4 separate regions of the Homo sapiens genome follow, and regions 1, 2 and 3 are each linked to region 4. The links come from fine-mapping of genetic effects on gene expression. A gene starts in region 4. Each other region holds a variant in brackets. All regions are shown on one strand. Distances are from middle to middle.

Region 1 (5,147 bases), 30 kb before region 4:
GCGTTGGAAAGTTCCTCCATGGCCCTGGGAGAGGACATGCAAGTCAGGAGCCCTGATGCGTCACCAGCCTCACAGTAAATTCACCTCTGTGCCCAAGAATGCAGGGCTGTCTCCTGGTCCAGGATCATGGTCTCTTCCTCCTCTGATCTCCAAGGACTTGCACTCTCGGCTCTGCCACTGACCAGCTTTGTGACTTTGGGAAGTCATTTTTCTAAGTCTCAGATTATGTATGTAAATGGGTATATAGGAAGTGATTCCTACCTTGAGAGAGGAATTAAATGTTAATTAAATTGCTTAAAGGGGTTAGGTTACATTAGATTAGGTGTAAAAACGTCTGCACGTGGTAAGTGCTCATTGAGCGGCAGCCATTATTATTACTATTAGCCGCAGCTGACTTGGGCAACACCTGCTACCTGCTTCCAGATGGATCCAGAGGTTTGCTTTCTTTGCCCACTGGAGGGCAGCAGAAAGCAGAAACCTGCCTTCCAGAGCTTTGCACCCCGGCTAACACCTAACACTGGCCTCTCAAGAGGCAGGAGGAAGGGTAAGGGGTTTCTGGGCTCAAAAGTGAGGCTGGCCAGTGAATTTTCTGTGTCTCTAGGACTGGATGCTAGTGGCTGGGGTAGGTTCCCTAAACAGCTCCAATCAATGCAAAGGCAGCCAAGTCATCCAGCCCACAGCCCCAGTGTCCGTCCCTGGATGCATCCCACAGTCCTGGACAGGATGGGCAGGAGTTCTGGCCTCTGGAGCTGCTCTTCGCATTTCTGTCTGTGTGACCTTGGGCAAGTGCCTTGACCTCTCTGTGCCTCCATTTCTTTTTCCGTAAAATGGAAATATTGCTGTTTCCCCCAAAAGGAAAAGCTTCCATATATGCAGAGGGATGGCCATGCTTGCGTTGCTTTGCATCAGGTAAATCTGTTACATTGTAATTAGCTTTTTTCTTCTGATCACAAATGCAATGCATTAATTGGTTTGAATATTTTGAGTGCCCTACAGCAGGTCAACCCCTGCATGAGCTGATGAAATTGGCAAAAATGAAGCTAGTCATTGTGTTGGGGTGGTGGGATTCTGGATGACAGAGTTCCCCCCTCAGCAACCGCCACCCCATTCTCCCAACTTTCTATGTTATTGCATCGCCTTTACAATGGTAGAAAAGAGAGACCAGGAGGAACGTAACTGAGCACTTACTATGTGTGAGATGTTTCCATTTATCCTTTCCCTAATTCTGCAGGCTCTACACGGCAAGCCCATGTCTGTGTTGCTTGCTGCTGTTTTCCCAGTGCCCAGCACCGTACCTGGCATGTCGTTGGTCCTCAAAACATACTTGTTTAGCAGTCAAAGAAATGATTTGTGCAAAGTTTACAAATGAGGAAATTGAGGTTCAAAGAGGTTATGTGACTTGTTCAATATCACCTAGCTAGTGGGACGCAGGACCAGGATCATTGGACTTCAGGTCCTGAGGAAGGTCTTTCTACTCATGCCTGTCCCTCTGCCTCCTCACATTCCGACACCCTCTTTGTAAAGCTGTCTTATTTTACAGGCATCTGATCAGGCGGCCTGCAAGAAGAGTGCGCCCCCTTAGCCAGTATGGCCACGCTTCCTCCCTTAGGGGCTGCTGGGTGTGCCCCTCATCTTCTCAACCCCCTGGGGACCCCTGGAGGATCTGGAGCACACCCTCCAGCTGGGGGATTTGCCCAGCAGGTGAGGCCCCTTAGTCGCTGTAGCCCATTTGGAAGTTTGGCAGGTGGATTTCTAGTGCAAGGCCACCTCTGCCCTCTGAGCTCAGAGCCACCTATTTCTGCCCCACCCAGTCCTGCACACAGCTGGTAGCAGGTGCAGGGAGGAGGCAAAAGCCAGACTTTGCCCCTTTATCTTGCACCCCTTTTCCCATTCTCAGGCAGATGTGTGTCCAAAAGTGTTTGACCTGTGCTGTGTGCATATGGGAATATGCACATATATACATGCGTGTCCCCATGCACATACCTGTGGACATGGGCAGCCCTGTGTGTGAGCACACATGTGTGTCTGAGTGTGGCTTGTGCGATCCTCCATGTGCCCATGGGTGCAGACGTGAATCCGAGTGTGAACGTGAGCTTATATGTAGCTCTGCATGTGTGTGGGTAATGCTGAAGGATAGACCACCAAGCAGAAGGGCATCTCCTTGCCCCGCCTCAGTTTCCTCATCTGTAAAATGGGGACAACAATGGCACCTAACAGGTGGAACCGGCAAGGCACACAGTAAGTGTCATGATAGTAGCCCTTTTTATTAAGCTTCTCGGGGATGTGTGCGGATTCCACAAAATAAGAACGCAGAAAGGGACTGGCTCAAGAAATGTTTCTCCCATCATTCTTTCATCCTTAGGTCCAGAAGTATTTCTTCTGTTCTCTTGGTTTTATCACTGCAAAGGTAATATAACAACAGTGGAGGAAGTTTGAGAAGAAAACATGGGGAAGGGGAGATACCTGTCCCCCAAAACCCCACCACTCCCGACACAAGAAGGAATTTCATTTTTGCTTGTTCTTTTCCTGACTTTGTCCATGAGCCAGCATGGAGCTTGGCACACAGCGCCGAGCTCGAAAAAAATATTTGGATGTTTTAACAAATATATATTAGCTAAAATGACTACACTGAGTATTTTTCCATCCTGCATTTGTTCACACATCAGGGACATTTTCCATATGATAGCTGGTCTTTATAGTTATTATAATTATTATTATTATTTTGAGATGGAGTCTGACTCTCTCGCCTGGGCCGGAGTGCAGTGGCTCAATCTCGGCTCACTGCAACCTCCGCCTCCCAGGTTTAAGCGATTGTCCTGCCTAAGCCTTCTGAGTAGCTGGGATTACAGGCATGCACCACCATGACAGGGTAATTTTTGTATTTTTAATAGAGATGAGTTTTCACCATGTTGGCCAGGCTGGTCTTGAACTCCTGACCTCCAGTGATCTGCCCACCTTGGCTTCCCAAAGTGCTGAGATTACAGGCATGAGCCACCACGCCCAGCCCAGTATTTATAATTATTAAAGATAATAGGCCAGGCGCGGTGGCTCACGCCTGTAATCCCAGCACTTTGGGAGGC[C/T]GAGGTGGGCAGATCATGAGGTCAGGAGATGGAGGCCATCCTGGCCACATTTCACAATGTGGCCTAGTGTTTCCACATTGTGAAACCCCATCTCTACTAAAAATACAAAAATTAGCCGGGAGTGGTGGTATGTTCCTGTAGTCCCAGCTACTTGGGAGGCTGAGGGAGGAGAATCACTTGAACCCGGGAGGCAGAGGTTGCAGTGAGCTGAGATCATGCCACTGCACTCCAGCCTGTGACAAAGTAAGACTCTGTCTCAAAAAAAAAAAAAAATTAGGAACTACCTACTGCTATAGACGAGTCACTTGTATTAAGAAATGTTATGTCGCAGTAATGAACATCTTTTTCCATCTAGAATTTTTTTTCTTTCTTTGGAACAGGTTAGTGTTTCCACACTGGGAATAGGGTGTCCCAGAATTTATAAAGGGGATTCCACTGAAAAAAACCAGAAACATTAACCGTCAAGGCCATGCAAATCAAAGCCACAATGAGATCCCACTACACACCCCCACGAGGATGGCTACAATAAAAAAGACAAACAATAATAAGTGTTGGTAAGGAATCAGAGAAATCAGAACTCTCATACATTGCTGACAGGGATGAAAAAAGTGAACAAAGCCAGTCATAAAAGACCACAGGCCTGGACGCACTGGCTCATGCCTGTAATCCCAGCACTTTGGGAGGCCAGGGTGGGAGGATCACTTGAGCCCAGGAGTTCTAGACTAGCCTGGGCAACATAGGGAGAACCCATCTCTACAAACAATTTTTTAAAAATTTGCTGGGCATGGCGGTGCACTGTGGTCCCAGCTACTTGGGAGGCTGAGCAGGGAGGGTCATGTGAGCCCTGGAGTTCGAGGCTGCAGTGAGCTGTGATTGCACTGTTGCACTCCAGCCTGGGCAAGAGAAGGAGACCCTGTCTCAAAAGAAAAAAAAAAAGACCCCATGTTGCATGACTTCTTTTCTATGAAACATCTAGAAAGAGCAAATCCATAGAGACAGAAAGTAATTGGCAGTTACCTGGGGCCAGAGGGGGGTCGGCTGCAGGACTGACTGCTGATAGGTACAGGGTTTCTGTGGGGGATAATGAAAAAGTGCCAAAATTGATTGTGACAAATATATAAAAAACTATTGAATTGTACACTTTATCTGTTGTTGTTGTTTTTGAGACAGAGTCTTGCTCTGTTGCCCAGGCTAGAGTGTAGTGGCATGACCTTGGCTCACTGCAACCTCCATCTCCCGGGTTCAAGCGATCCTCCTGCCGCAGTCTCCCGAGTAGCTGGGATTACAGGCGCCCACCACCATGCCCAGCTAATTTGTGTATTTTTTGTAGAGATGGGGTTTCACCATGTTGGCCAGGCTGGTCTCGAACTCCTGACCTCAAGTGATCTGCCCGCCTCGGCCTCCCAAAGTGCCAGGATTACAGGCATGAGCCACCACACCCTGCCTGAATTGTACACTTTAAATGGGTGAATTGTATGGCATGTGAATTTTATCTCAATAAAGCTGTTATAATCAAGTATTTTTTTAAAAAGGATGGAGACCCAAGATGACAATAAAAATGCACGCCGTCATTTACTGGGAGCAGGGACTATCGCCAAGACTCATTAATCTCATGTATCTTTCACAATAACCCTATTGGCTTATTTTCCCCATTTTACAGATAAGGACGCTGAGATTCAGAATGACTAAGTAACTGGCCCAACGGCACTTAGTTTTTTAGCGGTAGAGGTGTGATTTGAACCCAAGCTCATGCTCAATTTGAAGTACTTTTGTTGCCTCTTTAGAAGGCACCAGGAGCTAACGCACCAGGCCGACAGCACAGACAGGGGCCCAGGATCGGGGCCTCCTCTCTCCCCTGCCATTATCTGGCCTGGGCAGCCACAGCTCACAATCAGGGCTCTCTATCTCTCCCTCAGGCCTTCTCCCTGCATCTCCCTGTGTATGGCCCCTCCAGTAGAAACCCAGTGGAGGCTGATCTGGCAAACAGATCTGACTCAGGCCTCTCCAAGGCAGCTCTCAATCCTGTCCACCAAGTAGCCTCCGAGACTTCCCAACTTTACCGCACAG
Region 2 (5,147 bases), 690 kb after region 4:
AAGGAGACTGAGGTCGAGGGAGGTTATGTAGCTTGCCCAAGGCCACACAGCTAGGAAGGGGTGGAATGAAGATTCAAACCCAGGAAGTTCAACTCCAGAGCCTACACTCTAATGAGAAGGCTGTACTCCTGCCAGGTCTTGCCCCGTTACCTCCCATAACATGGAGCTGGCCAGCTCCCAGCTCTCCCTAGAGGCTGGGATGCAGTCAGCAGTCTAGAGCCTCAGGTTGCCCTGCGCTGCCAATATTTGTATTTGACAATTATCTATCATCCAAGCAGTTGGGAACAAGTCCCAAAACTGATTCTTACCAAAGGCAATTAACTAAAAGCCGCATGAGCGTACGTCGGGTTGCACTGTGGTGTGGGGGGAACGAGTGTGACTGAGACAATGAGCAGATGATGTGGAAGATATTTTCTCCCCAGCACTACAAAACAAGCCCTCAATCATGCCACAAAAGGCTCGTGTTGTCGGAAGGGAAATATGTCAACGACAGCGTTCGATCTTGGAGCGGTTCAAAAAGAAGAAGAAAAGAAATCTTTGAAATTGTAATTTGACCTAGAAAGGTTTTTCTAGGTCATCTGAACTTGGCACTTATGCCTCTAACCCCAAACCTAACACAGACAAAGTGCCAGGTTCACTTCCTTCTGTCAGTACCAGATAACACAGGAAATGGTATTTGTAAACACTGCTGATATATTTTTAAGCGCTGTCTCAACGTCGGCCTTTGGACTGGGAGCTGCGAGAACACTGGTGCAGCACAGCTCTGGAAGCAGGCAGATCTAGGTTCAAGTCCAGGCTCTGCACTAAGCTGCTGCATGGCAGTGGGCAGGGATCTTACCCCTCTCGTCCTCAGATTCCTCCCCTGGAGAACAGGAATGGAACAGGCAGGGTTTTGCATGCTACCTAGCAGTATGCAGAGAAAGGCCAGCTCCCCGCTTTCACCCCAGTTGCCTTCCCAGGCAGAGAGCCACCCCTCTGTTCTTGACTATTGAACCCTTCTGACCCAGATCTGGGCTGTCTCCTGGAGACCCAGGAGGGCAGTGGGGGGCTCTGTCCTAAGAGGCCTTTTCTCTCCCAGAAAACAGAAAACTGCACTCCAAGGCATGGCATGTGCCAATGAGTTATTCTAATTCATCTTCACTGTGGACCCACTAAGATAAATAATGAGGCCTCAGGGCTGGGAGGGCTTTAATCCTCTGGCTTCTGCAAATCCCACTGGGGAAACCAAGGCCAGGGCTGATGGATGGCCCACCGTTATTGGCAAGAGCATGTCCAGGGTTACAACCACCAAATTGTTGAGTCCTGTAAGCCTGCACCTCCAGAAGAAGCCAGATTTAGCCCAGTTACTGTCAAAAGCCCAAGGGCACGGTGAACATTCCTGTCTTCCCCAAGCCCTGACCTCAGCACCTACAATGTACCTGGCCATATGCCAGGTGCAGAGGGGCACTAGGGACCTAGAACCAATTCCCAGGGAAGCTCAGGTCCATAGGGAAAATGGGTATCTGCATAATGGCACCTGGAGGGGGGTGATAAAGCACTAAGGTGGAGATAGGCCAGGTGAGAGCAGTTGGTACATACCTGTGAGGTAGTGGGTCCAGAGTGAGCAAAGGCTGGGCAGCCAGGTTGGGGGAAAACCGGTATGTGTGCTGGGGAAGGGGAAGAAGGGGTGTCTAGAAGTCACTGAGGTAGGCTACAGTACAGAATGTGAGAGAGAAAATCAACATCCACTAAAGAAAACAGGTGCGTGTTTAAAGCAATATTCTTAAAGAAAGAGTAATGGAAGGATGCCCAATCTGGCCAGAGAGTGAAACATTCCGTGAAGCCACAATTAAAGCAGTGTGGCAGTAACAGAAAACAAGAATTCTAAAATCAATGAAACAGAAGGAAAAGTACAATGTTGGACCCAACTAGGTATGGAAACGTATCAAGATTAAGGAGGGCATTTCAGAGGGAAGACCACGTAAAGACACAAGGGGAAGCTGTCCACCTGCAAGCCTAGGAGAGAGGCTGATATGATTTAGCTCTATGTCCCCACCCAAGTCTCATGTCGAATTGTAATGCCCAATTTTGGAGGAGGGACATGGTGAGGTAATTGGATCTTGGGGGCGGATATCCCCCTTGCTGTTCTCGTGATAGTGAGTTCTCATGAGATCTGGTTGTTTGAAAGTGTGTAACGCTTCCCCACTTGCTCTGTCTCTCCTGCTGGCCATGTGAAGTGTACCTGCCACCCTTTCACCTTCTGCCACGGTTGTAAGTTTTCTGAGACCTCCCCAGAAGCAGAAGCTTGTACAGCTCACAGAATCGTGAGCCAAATAAACCTCTTCATAAATTACCCAGTCTCAGGTATGTCTTTATAGAAGTGTAAGAACAAACTAATACAGAGGCCTCAGATGGAATCAACCCTG[C/T]CAACACCTTGATCTCATACTTCTGACCTCTAGCCCTGTGAGAAAATAAATATTTGTTTAAGCCAAAAAAAAAAAAAAAAAAAAGAGGGCATTTACTTTATGCCAGGTAACATGTGATGTGCTTTGCACATGATCTTCTGCTCAATCTTGACAACGGTCCTAGGAGGAAGATATCATCCAGTTTTACAGAGGAAAAAACAAGCCCAATTTAAGCAACGTGCTCATAGCTCACACAGAAAGTGGCAAAGCCAAAATCTTAATTCTGCTAAAGCTCACGCTTATAACAGCTACTATATTTTGTCTCCCCTTTTGCAAACAAAGAGACAAGGGCTAATTATATAATAAACAGAATGGGGACAAGAGGGTTATCCTGTCCCTATTTAGGAACAGTGAACTAGATACCCACTGCAAGACACCAACCAAAATGCATGCACTCCGAATGGATTAAAGAGTTAAACATAAAAAGTCATGTTACAGGGAAACAATCAGAAAACAGAACAGAATGTTTATCAGATCTGTGGAGCAGGATAACTTCTTCAGCCCTCGAAGCAATCACAGAGGAAGAGAGATTGACAGATTCAAATATATATGCATTAATATCTTCTGTGGAAGAAAACATAATAAAACCAAAATGAAAAGGACATCAGACTAAGAAAATATCAGCACCAACTATAAGACAGTTAATATATACAAGGTAGAAATGGCTCAGTCACATTAAACAGAAAGCAAGATGCCAACAGACAAAAAGACATGGGATTCAAACAAAAGTCACACAAGAGGCGATATCTTAAGAAACAAATATGGAAGGGAAAAAAGGGACACCTGATTCAATGGCAAGTGGGGAAATGCACATAAAATAAACTTACTGCAATGCAACTGGGATATTTCACACCACTGCGGACATGGGAAACGGGTTCCAGCCTAATGGAAGACAATATGGTGGCCACTCTTAGGCAGACACAGCTAGCCAGAGGCAGGGGACGAGCACTCAAGGGCTTAAAACAGTCTTGCTTAAAACAGCCTTTTACTCTGAGTGCTGGGGATGGTAAAGTGATATACAGAAAACAGTCTTTTTTTTTTTTTTTTTTTTTTAAAGATAGAACCTTACTCTCACCCAGGCTGGAGTGCAGTGGCATGATCTCAGCTCACTGCAACCTCGGCCTCCTGGGTTCAAGCGATTCTCCTGCCTCAGCCTCCTGAGTAGCTGGAATTACAGGCATGCGCCACCATGCCCAACTAATTTTTGTATCTTTAGTAGAGATGGGGTTTCATCATGTTGGCCAGGCTGGTCTCGAACTCCTGACCTCAGGTGATCCACCCACCTCAGCCTCCCAAAGTGCTAGGACTGATTACAGGCCTGAGCCACTGCACCTGGTGGACACACAGTCTTTGTCCCGGAGCTCATGGTCTAGGGAAGGGGACAGGACCAGGAATCAGAATATGGGTGGGTGATAAGTAGATGGGAAGCCAGGTTCGTGGGGCCTAGACAAGGGCCTTGTAAAAAGACTTCACGGAAGAGGTGGCTTCTAAGCAGATCTACCCGCAGCATGCACACAACTAGCCAGGCGAGGGCAGAGGCCAGTGGGAACAGCATTTGCCAAAGCCTGGGAGCTGGAGGGAAGGGCCCATTCATGGAATAGTAAGGCGGTGCAAGATAAGACAGAAAGGCAAGCAGGGCCTTATCACAAGGGAGCTTCAAGGGCCACACTGGGGAGATGAGACTGAAACCCGGAATGTGGGCTGCACTTCAGAAACTGGCCTCTGGCTTCTGGGTGGAGAATGGGTTGTAGATGCTAACTAAGATGGGGAAACGGGAGTCTGAGCAGGGCTTGGGCAGGGAAGAAACACTGGCTAACACAATAATAAGTAAAACAGCGTGGCAGTGATTCAAAACTAGAAATTTATACTGATGGCTAGAATGAGAAGCAGGTTTGGAGCCAGAATAAAACCATGACAGCCCCAGCATGTTATGCAGAATACGGCCTTGAGAGTCTCAGAGATGAGTGAAAAGTGCCAAGGGCAAGGGATCACCCAGGAGTCAGAAAGGGGGTGACTCATGCAATTTGCAAACCCTAATTTCCTCTCCTTGGTCACACACTTCCTTCTGATTTCTTTCTTCTGATGATTCATTAAAAAAAAATTCTCCTTTTAAATTCACATCAGAAATGTCTGAGTACCTCGGCTCACCCTGCCCTAAGCTTTAACCCCTGCCCCTGAACCAGCAAAACCCAACATAACCCCAGGTGGCTAAGAAGACACTGGCTGCCAAGAAACCAGAAGCCAGCCAAGGGGAAACAACGGGTTTCAGGCTCTGCGATGGCTGCCAGAGGCCCCCATGGGCCCTCCTGTGACCCAGGAGGGTTTTCAGCAGCTACTCACATGCACAGATCCACAGCTCTCAGCCAGAACTCGTGCAGTTTCAGAATTTGTTTGAATTTCAGAAAAGTAATGAAGTGCAAATTCTGCAAATTATGCCATAGCTTCAGTGGAGCCTCAGGCAACACCTGCAATGGAACACATTCATATTTCTGCAGTGGAACATATGAATATTCACACAAGTGGGGTGAGTAAAGATTACAAAGAGCCTCGCGTCAGCTCAGGTCAGATTTTGGGGGCCAAATGAGTTTGCAGCATATTGACAAAACAACTTCTCGTCGCAGGGCTTTTTGGATTGTAGATAAGGCAGTTTCAAGCGAATCAAGCACCAGGAGTCACGTGCTAGAAGGCTGTCCCTCTGTATGC
Region 3 (5,147 bases), 21 kb before region 4:
TGATAGGTGGAAGTTTCAGCAGGAGAGTAGGTGGGAGTGACCCATGAGGAGGAGAAAAACTGTCTGTGAGGGACAGAAGTTGGAATGCTAGCTCTTTCTTTAGCTACCTTATCAGCATAAGCGTTGCCCTGAACGATGGGATCTGATGCCTTTTGGTGGCCCTTGCAGTGTATGACTCCAGTTTCCTTTGGAAGTAAAGCGGCCTTGAGAAGAGTTTTTATTAAAGAGGCAATAATGATGGAGGACCCTTGCGTAGTGAGGAAACCTCTTTCAGCCCATTTAACACCATGGTGGTGCAGGATATGGAAGGCATATTTAGAGTCAGTATAAATATTGATGCGTAGTGCGTAGTTCCTTTGCAAGAGTGAGGGCTCGAGTTAAGGCAATGAGTTCAGCTTGCTGAGAGGTAGTGGAGGTGGGCAGAGTGGTAGCCTCAATGATAGATGTGGAAGATACTATAGCATAGCCTGCCTTTGCTGGTGTGTGGCGATTAGGCCTAGTGGAACTGCCATCAATATACCAGGTGTGATCAGGGTGAGGAACAGGAAAGAAGGAAATGTGGGGAAATAGAGTGAATGTCAGGTGTATCATAGAGATACAGTCATGGGGGTCACGTGTGGTATCAGGAATAATGTGGGAGGCTGGATTGAAGTCCGGGCCAGGAACAATGGTAACTGTGGGAGACTCAACAAAGAGTGAGTACAGCTGAAGGAGCCGGGGAGCAGACAGTATATGTGTCAGGTGTGAGGAAGAAAATAGATTTTGGAAGTTATAAGAACTGTAGAGAGTGAGTTGAGCATAGTTTGTGATTTTGAGGGCCTCCAAAAGTATTAGGGCAGCAGCGGCCACCGCATGGAGACATGATAGCCAGCCTAAAACAGTAAGGTCAAGTTGTTTGGACAAAAAGCCTATAGGGTGCGGTCCCAGTCCTTGTGTACGAATTCCAACTGCACAGCCCTACACTTCGGCTGCGTGTAATGAAAAGGGTTGAGATGAGCCAGGGAGAGCTAGTGTGGGAGCAGTCTCTAAAACTGTCTTCAAGGAACAGAAAGAGGAGTGGGGAAAGGATTGAGAATCTATGGAGTCAGCTAGGTTTCCTTTTGTGAGTTTATACAATGGTTTTGTTAGGATGGCAAAACCAGGTATCCAAAGACAAAAGTATCCAACCACGCCCAGGAAGTAAAGGAGTTGTTGTTTTGTAGAAGGGCCTGGGGTTTGAGAGATCAGTCGGACACGATCCGCAGGGAGAGCGCATGTGTTGTTATGAAGAATTATGCTGAGGTAGGTAATGGATGGAGAAGAAATTTGAGCTTTGGACAGGGATACCCAATATCCCTTGGAGAATAAATGTTGAAGGAGCAGGAGGGTGTCTTGTTGAGAAGATTCAAAGGAGGGGCTACAAAGTAGAAGGTCATCAATATATTGAATAAGGCAAGAAGCAGAGGGGTGGAAAGAAAGTAAATCATAAGAAAGAGCTTGGCTGAAGTAATGAGGGCTGGCCCTGAAGCCTTGCGGCAGTACAGCCCAGGTAAGCTGCTGGGACTGATGGGTGTCAGGATCGGTCCAGGTAAAAGCAAAGAGAGGCTGGGACAAGGGGTGTAGGAGAATAGTGAAAAAAAGCATTTTAAAGATCAAGAATGGAATAGTGAGTTGTGGAGGAAGATATTGAGGACAAAAGAGCGTACGGGTTGGGCACCACAGGGTGGATAGGCAAAACAATTTGGTTGATAAGGCACAGATCCTGAACTAACCTGTAAGACTTGTCCGGTTTTTGAACAGGTAAAATGGGAGAATTGTAAGGAGAGTTTATAGGTTTTAGAAGCCCATGCTGTAGCAGGCAAGTGATAACAGGATTTAATCCCCTTAAAGCCTGTTGTGGGATGTGATACTGGCATTGAGTGGGGTAAGCGTGATTAGGTTTTAATGGGATAGTAATGGGCATGTGATTGGTTGCCAGGGAGGGAGTGGAGGTGTCCCATATTTGTGGGTTAAGGTCGGGGGATATGAGAGGAAGACCCAAAGGAGGCTTTGGGTTGGGAAGAAGGGGGCAATGAGATGTGGCTGTAGTACAGGAATAATCAGGGAAGCAGATAATTTGGTTAAAATGTCTCAGCCTAATAAGGAAGCTGGGCAGGTGGGGATAACTGAAAAAGAGTGCATAAAAGAACGTTGTCCAAGTTGGCACCAGAGTGGGGGAGTTTTAAGGGGTTTTGAAGCTTGGCCATCAATACCCACAACAGTTATGGGGGCGAGGGAAACAGGCCCTTGAAAAGAAGATAATGTGGAGTGGGTAGCCCCCATATCGATTAAACGGGATGGACTTACCCTCCACTTTAAGAGTTACCCGAAGCTCAGCGTCTGTGATGGTCCAGGAGGCTTCTGAGGCGATCGGGCTACGTCAGTCTTCAGCTGCTAAGCCGAGGAGATCTGGGAAGGAGTCGGCCAAGGAACATAGGGTTTGGGCTCCAGGGGCTTTAGGAGTGGCAGTGATGTGAGTCGGACAGTCCGACCTCCAGCGGGGGCCCGCACAGACAGGGCACGGCTTAGGAGGAATCCCGGGCTGCGGGCATTCTGAGGCCCAGTGGCCAGGCTTTTAGCATTTGAAGCAAGGTCCACGAGGATGTTTTGAAGGAGCCCCTGGGAGCTGTGGCTTGGATGTTCTGAAGTTCTTGTATGCTGGAGACGTGGTTGTGGGCTGTCTTACAGCGGAGGCGAGCAGCTGTAACTCAGAAATGCGTTGCTGCCTGGCTACCTCCTCTGTATTATTGTACACTTTGAAGGGGAGGTTGATTAATTCGTGTTGTGGGGTTTGAGGGCCGGATTCCAATTTTTAAAGCTTTTTTCTAATGTCAGGAGCTGGGTGATAAAATGCATATTAAGAATAAGGCGGCCTTCTGGCCCCTCTGGGTCTAGGGCGGTAAAGTGTGTAAGGGTTGCTGCCGAGCGGGCCATGAACTG[A/G]GCTGGGTTTTCGTCTTTACCTTGGGTAGTTTCTCTAAGTTTGTCATAATTAACAGCTTTGTAAGCTGCCTTTTTAAGCCCTTCAACTAGGCAGGAAACCATGTAATCTCGCCTAGCCATACCTGGGGAATCTGCCTGATAGTTCCATTGGGGGTCCTCTCGGGGAACTGCTCTACTGCCTTCCTGGAGGTCAGGTTCATGAAGCCGGCGGTTATCAGCGTGAGATTGGGCTAGAGAAAAAACTCTTTCCCGTTCATCTGGGGAGAGGGTAGAAGTCAGGATGACATTTCAGTCACTCCAGGTTAAACTGTAGGACAGAGTTAGATATCGGGATTCCTGTATATATTTAGTGGGGTCTGATGAGAAAGAGCCTAAATGCTGGCTGATTTGGGAAAGGTCTGATAGAGAAAAAGGCACATGTACCCTGACTATGCCTTCAGCTCCAGCCACCTCTCTAAGAGGAAATTGTTGGGCAGGTGGGGGAGAGCTAGCCGCAGAACGAAACTGAAAACCAGACTGGGTGTGGGGAGGGCGGGTAATAGAAGGGTTATAGGATGTGGGAGCAGAGGCTGAAGAAGAGTTGGAGGCTGATTCAGCCTGGTGGGGAGCGAGCTGAGGAGGAGCAGTCTGGGAAGAAGGTGAGACGTCAGATGGTTCAGTAGAAAAGGAAGATTCACAAGACTCAGCGACGCTTGGGGTTGGGACTGAAGGGACAGGTGGGAGGGAAAGAAGGAGGATTTGGGACGAGTCGCATTGGGAACAGAGACTAGGGAGGGAACGAAGTGTGAAAAATGCCTGGACGTAAGACACCTCAGACCATTTGCCCATTTTTCAACAAAAATTATCTAGGTCTTGTAGGACGGAGAAATGAAAAGTGCCATTTTCTGGCCATTTAGAACCATTGTTAGTTTGTATTGGGGCCAAGTGGTGTTGCAGAAGAAAATAAGATGCTTAGATTTTAGGTCAGGTGAGAGTTGAAGAGGTTTTAAGTTCTTGAGAACATAGGCTAAGGGAGAAGAAGGAGGAATGGAGGGTGGAAGTTTGCCCATAGTGAAGGAGGCAAGTTTAAAGAGAAGGGTAGAGATATGGAGAAGGGGGTGGGGAGCAGCCCTGGGCTGCAATGTGGGTGAGCAGCCAAAGCAGGCGTCCCCGCAATTGACTTGCCACCAAGGGAATGTGGGTGAATGACCAAAGCAGGCGTCCCTGCGGTGATCGGACACCAATGGAATGTGGGTGAATAATCAGGCAGGCGTCCCCGCAGTGATTAAATGGCAAGGGAAGACTGTCTTCCTGAGTCTGTGACCGGCCCTGGAGTTTTGGGTTCACGGATAAAATGTGTCTCCTTTGTCTCTACTGGAGAGGAAAAAGAACTGGAATTGGAAGGACAGAGAGATTGAAGGGTAGCAAGAGAGGCTGGAGAAGAGAGTGAAAAGACCACTTACCCAATTTGAAATTGGTGAGATGTTCCTTGGGCTGGTTGATCTGAGGACCCGAGGTCGTAAGTGGATCTCTTCACGGAGTGAGGGTGAGGACAGGGGACTGGTCTCCCGAAGGAGTCCCTCTGACCCGGGTCTTCAGCACCAAATGTCACACGCATCTGTGTGAAGAGACCACCAAACAGGCTTTGTGTGAGCAACAAGGCTGTTTATTTCACCTGGATGCAGGCGGGCTGAGTCCGAAAAGAGAGTCAGCAAAGGGTGGTGGGATTATCATTAGTTCTTACAGGTTTTGGGATAGGCAGTGGAGTTAGGAGCAATGTTTTGTGGGCAGCGGGTGGATCTCACAAAGTACATTCTCAAGGGTGGGGAGAATTACAAAGAACTTTCTTAAGGGTGGGGGAGATTACAAAGAACTTTCTTAAGTGGGGGGAGATTATAAAGTACATTGATCAGTTAGGGTGGGGCAGAAACAAATCACAATGGTGAAAGGTCATCAGTTAAGGCTATTTTCACTTCTTTTGTGGATCTTCAGTTGCTTCAGGCCATCTGGATGTATACATGCAGGTCACAGGGGATATGACGGCTTAGCTTGGGCTCAGAGGCCTGACACAAAAGACCTGAAAAAGACAACTTGAGACCAACAGAATGTCTCTCCCTCTCCCCCGTTTCTTTTCTCCTTTTTTTTTTTTTTAGCAGCAGTTTACTCAAAAGGTAAACAAAAAAATCTTTTGCTATCTCTTATTAATACTA
Region 4 (5,147 bases):
AGTCCTGGGATTACAGGCATGAACCACTGCGCCCAGGCTCGGGTATGTCTTCATCAGTAGCATGAAAATAATGGACTAATACAGCCACCCTCTCCCTCACTCCCACATACAACCAAACCCCAAATCCAGCTGATTTTACACCCTAAATGCAGCTTGAATATGAGTTTCTCCACTTCCCCCACTGACATCACTATGCCCTACCCAGACCATGGCAGTTGCCTCCTTCCTGGTATCCTGTCCTCCCTCACCCCCGCTGGCCCCCTGTAATGCCCTCCCCTCACAGCAGGGAGCCCAGGCTTCTCAAAGTGCCCTGTGGGTGCGAACCACCTGGGGGTCCTGTTTGTATAAAATACAGATTCTACTTCAGTAGGTCTGGGATGGGGTCTGAAAGTCTGCATTTGTAGTCAGCTCCCAGGTGATGTGGGTGCTGATGATCCCTGGATCACACTTTCAGTAGCTGGAGAATATTTTTTCCAAATAAAAGGGTGATTTTGTCTCGCCTCCACTTAAAACACTCCACTGACTTCCTAGGAATCCCACACCATCGCTGGGTCCCACATCCCTGGCAGGATTCAGCTCCCATCAGACCTTCTAGCCCCTTGCTCTCCACTCTCCCACTCTCTCTTTCCCCCTTGTTTATGGGTTTGTTAATTTATTTATGATGAAATGAAATGAAGCTACCATCCACCCCAGTACTGGAACATTATCAATAACCTGTGTGTGGCCAGGCGTGGTGGCTCATGCCTGTAATCACGCCTTGGGAAGCCGAGGTGGGTGGATCATGTGAGGTCAGGTGTTCGAGACCAGCCTGGCCAACATGGTGAAACCCCGTCTCTACTACAAATCCAAAACTTAGCAGGGCACGGTGCCACGCGCCTGTAATCCCAGCTACTCGGGACGCTGAGGCCGAGAACTGCTTAAAATCCAGGAGGTGGAGGTTGCAGTGAGCCGAGATTTCGCCACTGCACTCCAGCCTGGGCGACAGAGCAAGAGTCCATCTCAAAAAAACAAAAACAAAAACAAAAAAACAAAAAACAAAAATTAGCCAGGCGTGGTTGTGGGCGCCTATAATCCCAGCTACTCGGGAGGCTGAGACAGGAAAATCGCTTGAAACGCTGGGGGTGCGGGGGAGCGGTGGGGAGGAGGCGGGCCAGAGGGGCAGAGGTTGCAGTGAGCCCAGATCGCGCCACTTCACTGCAGCCTCCGCGAAAGAGCGAAACTCCGTCTCAGTAAATAAATAAATAAATAAATAAATAAATAAATAAATAAATAAATAACCTGTACCCGCGTGTTATTTCCCTCCGTCCTTACCTCCTCCCGGCTCCTTCCCTTTCACCTGAGATAACCACTCTTCTCGTATCTATGCTCATCTTTCCCTTGCTTTACATTTTTTCCACCGATGCATGTGTCTAAACATACATACTTTTGGTTTTGCTTTTACACATTCTAAAAGTTGCACCATTGTATGCAGTTTTCCGCAACTTAGTTTTTTTCACTCAACATTGTTTCTGAGACATTGTTTCTGTTGTTGTCTGGCTGAAGTTCATTCCGTTTCACTGCTGTCTAACGTTTCATGGTGTGAATATTCCGGTTTATTTGCCCACTCGCCCGTGGAGGGGCATTTGAGGGTGTTTCCAATGTTCCTGTTATTCGGAATAGCGCTGGTGTGAACATTCTGCACAGGTCTCTGGCTGCGCCTGGGCGGGTTTCTTAAAGGTGAATGCCCAGGAGGGGACTGTCTGTGTTCTCCCTCCCTCCGAGCTCCAGCCTTCCTCGCCTCCTTTCACTCCCAGCTCCCTGGAGTCTCTCACGTAGAATGTCCTCTCCACCCCCACCCACCCCTGATGAACTCCTGCAGGTTCTGCAGGCCACGGCTGGCCCCCCTCGAAAGTTCCTTAACTATACAATTATGGTGTGTGTTTCTGCGACGAGCGTCCGTCTATCCGGTGGAAGGCACGCCGCTCGAGGCTTGCGATGCTCCCGGGGTCCCCGCTTCTAGCTTGGGCCTGGCGCACAGCAGCGCCCAGACTGCAGGGGGACGCTTGAAAGTTGCTGGAGGAGCCGGGGGGAAGGCAGCGCCCAGCGAGGCGGCTGGAGCGCGCGCCCACAGGTGGGTCCGGTCGGGCGCCGCGGGGCCGTAGTTTTCGGGTCGGCGGGCGAGGACGCCGGGTCCAGAATTCCAGGAAATGCGCGATCCAGGCCGGCGGGCGGGGCGGGGGCTCCGGCGAGAGGGCGGGCCCCGGGAACGGCGGCGGGCGGGGCGGGAGGCGGGGCCCGGCCCGTTAAGAAGAGCGTGGCCGGCCGCGGCCACCGCTGGCCCCAGGGAAAGCCGAGCGGCCACCGAGCCGGCAGAGACCCACCGAGCGGCGGCGGAGGGAGCAGCGCCGGGGCGCACGAGGGCACCATGGCCCAGACGCCCGCCTTCGACAAGCCCAAAGTGAGCGCGCGCGGGGGCTCCGGGGACGGGGGTCCGGCGCCTGGGCGGCCCGAGGGGCTTAGCGGGGCCCAGCCCGGGGCGTCCAAACCCTGGGAACGAACGGGGGCTCCTGCAGGCGAGTTCTTCCTTCGGCTTAGGCCGTGGCTTGCTTGCGGGCTAATCAGGGACAATGGGGCAGAGAAGGTCCAGAACCCGGAGGCCTCCAGAGTCTGCTTCTGCCCCTGACTTGACCCCTCTGGGTCTCAGTTTCGCTGTCTGTCAAGTGGGCATCCTAGCACCGCTGAGCGCTGTGTGGGCCTGGGCAGGGACTTGAGGTCTCTGAAGCTCAGCTGTATGATCAGGCCCGATGTCTACGCCGGATAGGCACCTAGTGCTGTGCCCGGCGCCTACTGAGTGCTCAGTGAATGGAAGCAGCTTTGTACGCCAGCGTTATGGTGGTGAGCGCCAAGGAGCTCAGGTTTGTGGATGCGCCCCGGGGAAGAACCGTGAGCCCTGCCAGAAAGGGGAGGGAGGGGAGCAGAGCACCCCCCTTCCCCCGCGCGGGAAGAACAGGAGCTAGGTAGGCCCTGGGTTTGGGGCCCTAGCAGGGTTCACTCGAGGCCAAGCCATGGCCACTGGCCCCAGGGGAGAATCCCCTTGTTTCTCCGCCCACCAGCTGTGGCGTCTTGGGACTGTTGGGGTCAGGGAGGGTCTGGACCCCCTTGGCCTGTCGCAGAGTCCGAGAGGAGGGGCCCAGGAGTCTGCCAAGCAGGGTGAGTCAGCCAGTAGGGTGTGAGAGTGGTTGGGGAAGGAGTCAGCTGCAGTCAGCCTCAACTTACCCTTCTAAGAAATAGGTGTGAGTGGCCCAGGAGGTTGGCTCACGCCTGTAATCCCAGCACTTTGTGAGGCTGAGGCGGGAGGATCATTTGAGTCCAGGAGTTTGAGACTAGCCTGGACAACAAAACTAGACCCCGTCTCTCCAAAAAATAAAAAAAGTTAGGGGAAGTGTGTGTGGTGGTGCACTCCCGTAGTCCCAGCTACTCAGGAGGCTGAGGCGGGAGGATCGCTTGAGCCCAGGAGGTTGAGGCTGCAGTGAGGTGTGATGGTGCCACTGCACTTCAGCCTGGGAGACAGAGCGAGACCCTGTCTCAAAAAAAAGAGAAGAAAAAGAAAAGAAAAGAAATAGGTGTGAATGATGATGACAGCTATCACAAAAGTGCCGGTGAGAATCCAGTGAGTGTGCATGTGTCAGTGAGGGAGACAGGCTGTGGAGAGCCCACCTACCTTCTGAGGAGGGTGAGGCCTGGCCCCCACTACTGATGCCCCCAGCCCAGGGAAAATGCTCAGCTACTCCCCGTCAGAAGCTGGAAGCACTGAGGTGCTGTACAAGCCCTCCTACCCCCACCCCTGCCTCCTTCACGTCTTACTGGAGCTGGGGCCCATGATTGGCGCCTCCCCTTTGCAGTCTTTTTATTAAATGCTCTGGGCTCCCTCTGCCCTTGGGCTGGGGACCCACTGTACCCTGATGTGAATCCTATGGCAATAGCAAAGCTCTTTGATTGGCGGGGTGCAGTGGCTCACGCCTATAATCCCAGCACTTTGGGAGGCAAAGGTGGGTGGATCATGAGGCCAGGAGTTCGAGACCAGCCTGGCCAACATGGCAAAACCCCATTTCTACTAAAAATATAAAAAATTAGCTGGGCATGGTGGCGGGCGCCTGTAGTCCCAGCTACGCAGAAGGCTGAGGCAGGAGAATGGCATAAACCCAGGAGGTGGAGCTTGCAGTGAGCCGAGATCTCGCCATTGCACTCCAGCCTGGGTGACAGAGTGAGACGCTGTCTCAAAAAAAAAAAAAAAAAAAAAAAGGCTCCTTGATTGCGAACATGTTGGGAGTTATGGAGAGAACAGCAGGGCCCACTTCTAGAGCACTTGTTGCAGACACCCATTGGATCCTTGCAGTTCTTCTGTAACAGCCCATCAAGGGAGGGGCTCATATTATTATCCCCATTTTTTGGCCTTGCTCAGTCCTCCCATCTGATTCAAGCTGGCAGATCATTTTCCCTATTGGGACCTCAGTGTCCACACCTGGAGGATGGAACATCAGCTGCTTATGTGGGTGTCCCGTGTCCTGAGTCCCAAGGCCACAAGGTGATGCTTGAGAGTGAAGGTAGAATGTTACCTGCCATGTGTTTGAGGCGTGACAAATCTTGTATGATTGTGAGGAGGAACTTGTGTGAGCTGGCAGGAGAAGTGGGAAGGAGTGTGAATCTCAGAGCCACTGTGACCAGAGCCAGCTCCCTGCCCTCTTGTGGGAGGGACAGATGACAGTTATAATTATTAGCATTACTAGCTGCAGCTAATGGAGTGTTGATGTTTCTGTGCCAGGCACCGTTCTAAACACATTATCTGCATTTTTTATTTAATCCAGGCACAGAGAGGTTAACTAGGCCCAAGATCACACAGCTAGGAAATGTCCAATCTGGGGTTTGAGTCCAAGGGAGGCTGGCTTCGAAATCCCATGCCTCTAACCATCTTTCCTAAACTACCTCTGCAGAAGCCTTTGGGGATAGAGGTGCCAGTGCCCCAGGTGCAAACCTCCTGAGACAGGAGCCTTTGCTGTGTCCTTCAGCTTCTCATACCTGCCACCAGCTGAGGCCTGGGACCTGGTCAGCTAGAAGAAAGCAGAGCAGGGCAGCGCTTTTCAAACTGCACTCAAGTGGCCTGACTTTTA

What was found. PIP is the estimated chance that this variant, and not a neighbour inherited with it, causes the effect.
Region 1: its variant is fine-mapped to the expression of ADA in adrenal gland (GTEx, PIP 0.91).
Region 2: its variant is fine-mapped to the expression of ADA in whole blood (TOPMed, PIP above 0.99).
Region 3: its variant is fine-mapped to the expression of ADA in whole blood (TOPMed, PIP above 0.99).

Annotation. Positions count from the first base shown.
Region 1 is chr20:44,679,031-44,684,177 of GRCh38, reverse strand. No RefSeq gene overlaps it. Among named protein-coding and RNA genes, the nearest start is that of LINC01260, 9.9 kb to the right of the region's middle. RefSeq lists a silencer at 532-591. The variant C/T (reference allele first, on the strand shown) is at 3,081.
Region 2 is chr20:43,954,910-43,960,056 of GRCh38, reverse strand. All of the region lies in intron 1 of TOX2 (TOX high mobility group box family member 2), which reads right to left. Among named protein-coding and RNA genes, the nearest start is that of TOX2, 43 kb to the right of the region's middle. RefSeq lists a silencer at 494-788 and enhancers at 494-788, 3,451-4,085, 4,558-4,607, 4,219-5,147. The variant C/T (reference allele first, on the strand shown) is at 2,406.
Region 3 is chr20:44,670,088-44,675,234 of GRCh38, reverse strand. LINC01260 (long intergenic non-protein coding RNA 1260) reads left to right here and starts at 3,496. Exons shown (of 5, transcript NR_034104.1): 1 at 3,496-3,596. RefSeq lists enhancers at 3,756-4,255, 4,256-4,757. The variant A/G (reference allele first, on the strand shown) is at 2,959.
Region 4 is chr20:44,648,865-44,654,011 of GRCh38, reverse strand. ADA (adenosine deaminase) reads left to right here and starts at 2,313. Exons shown (of 12, transcript NM_000022.4): 1 at 2,313-2,437. The coding sequence starts at 2,405. RefSeq lists a silencer at 2,115-2,504 and enhancers at 1,541-2,524, 2,755-2,864.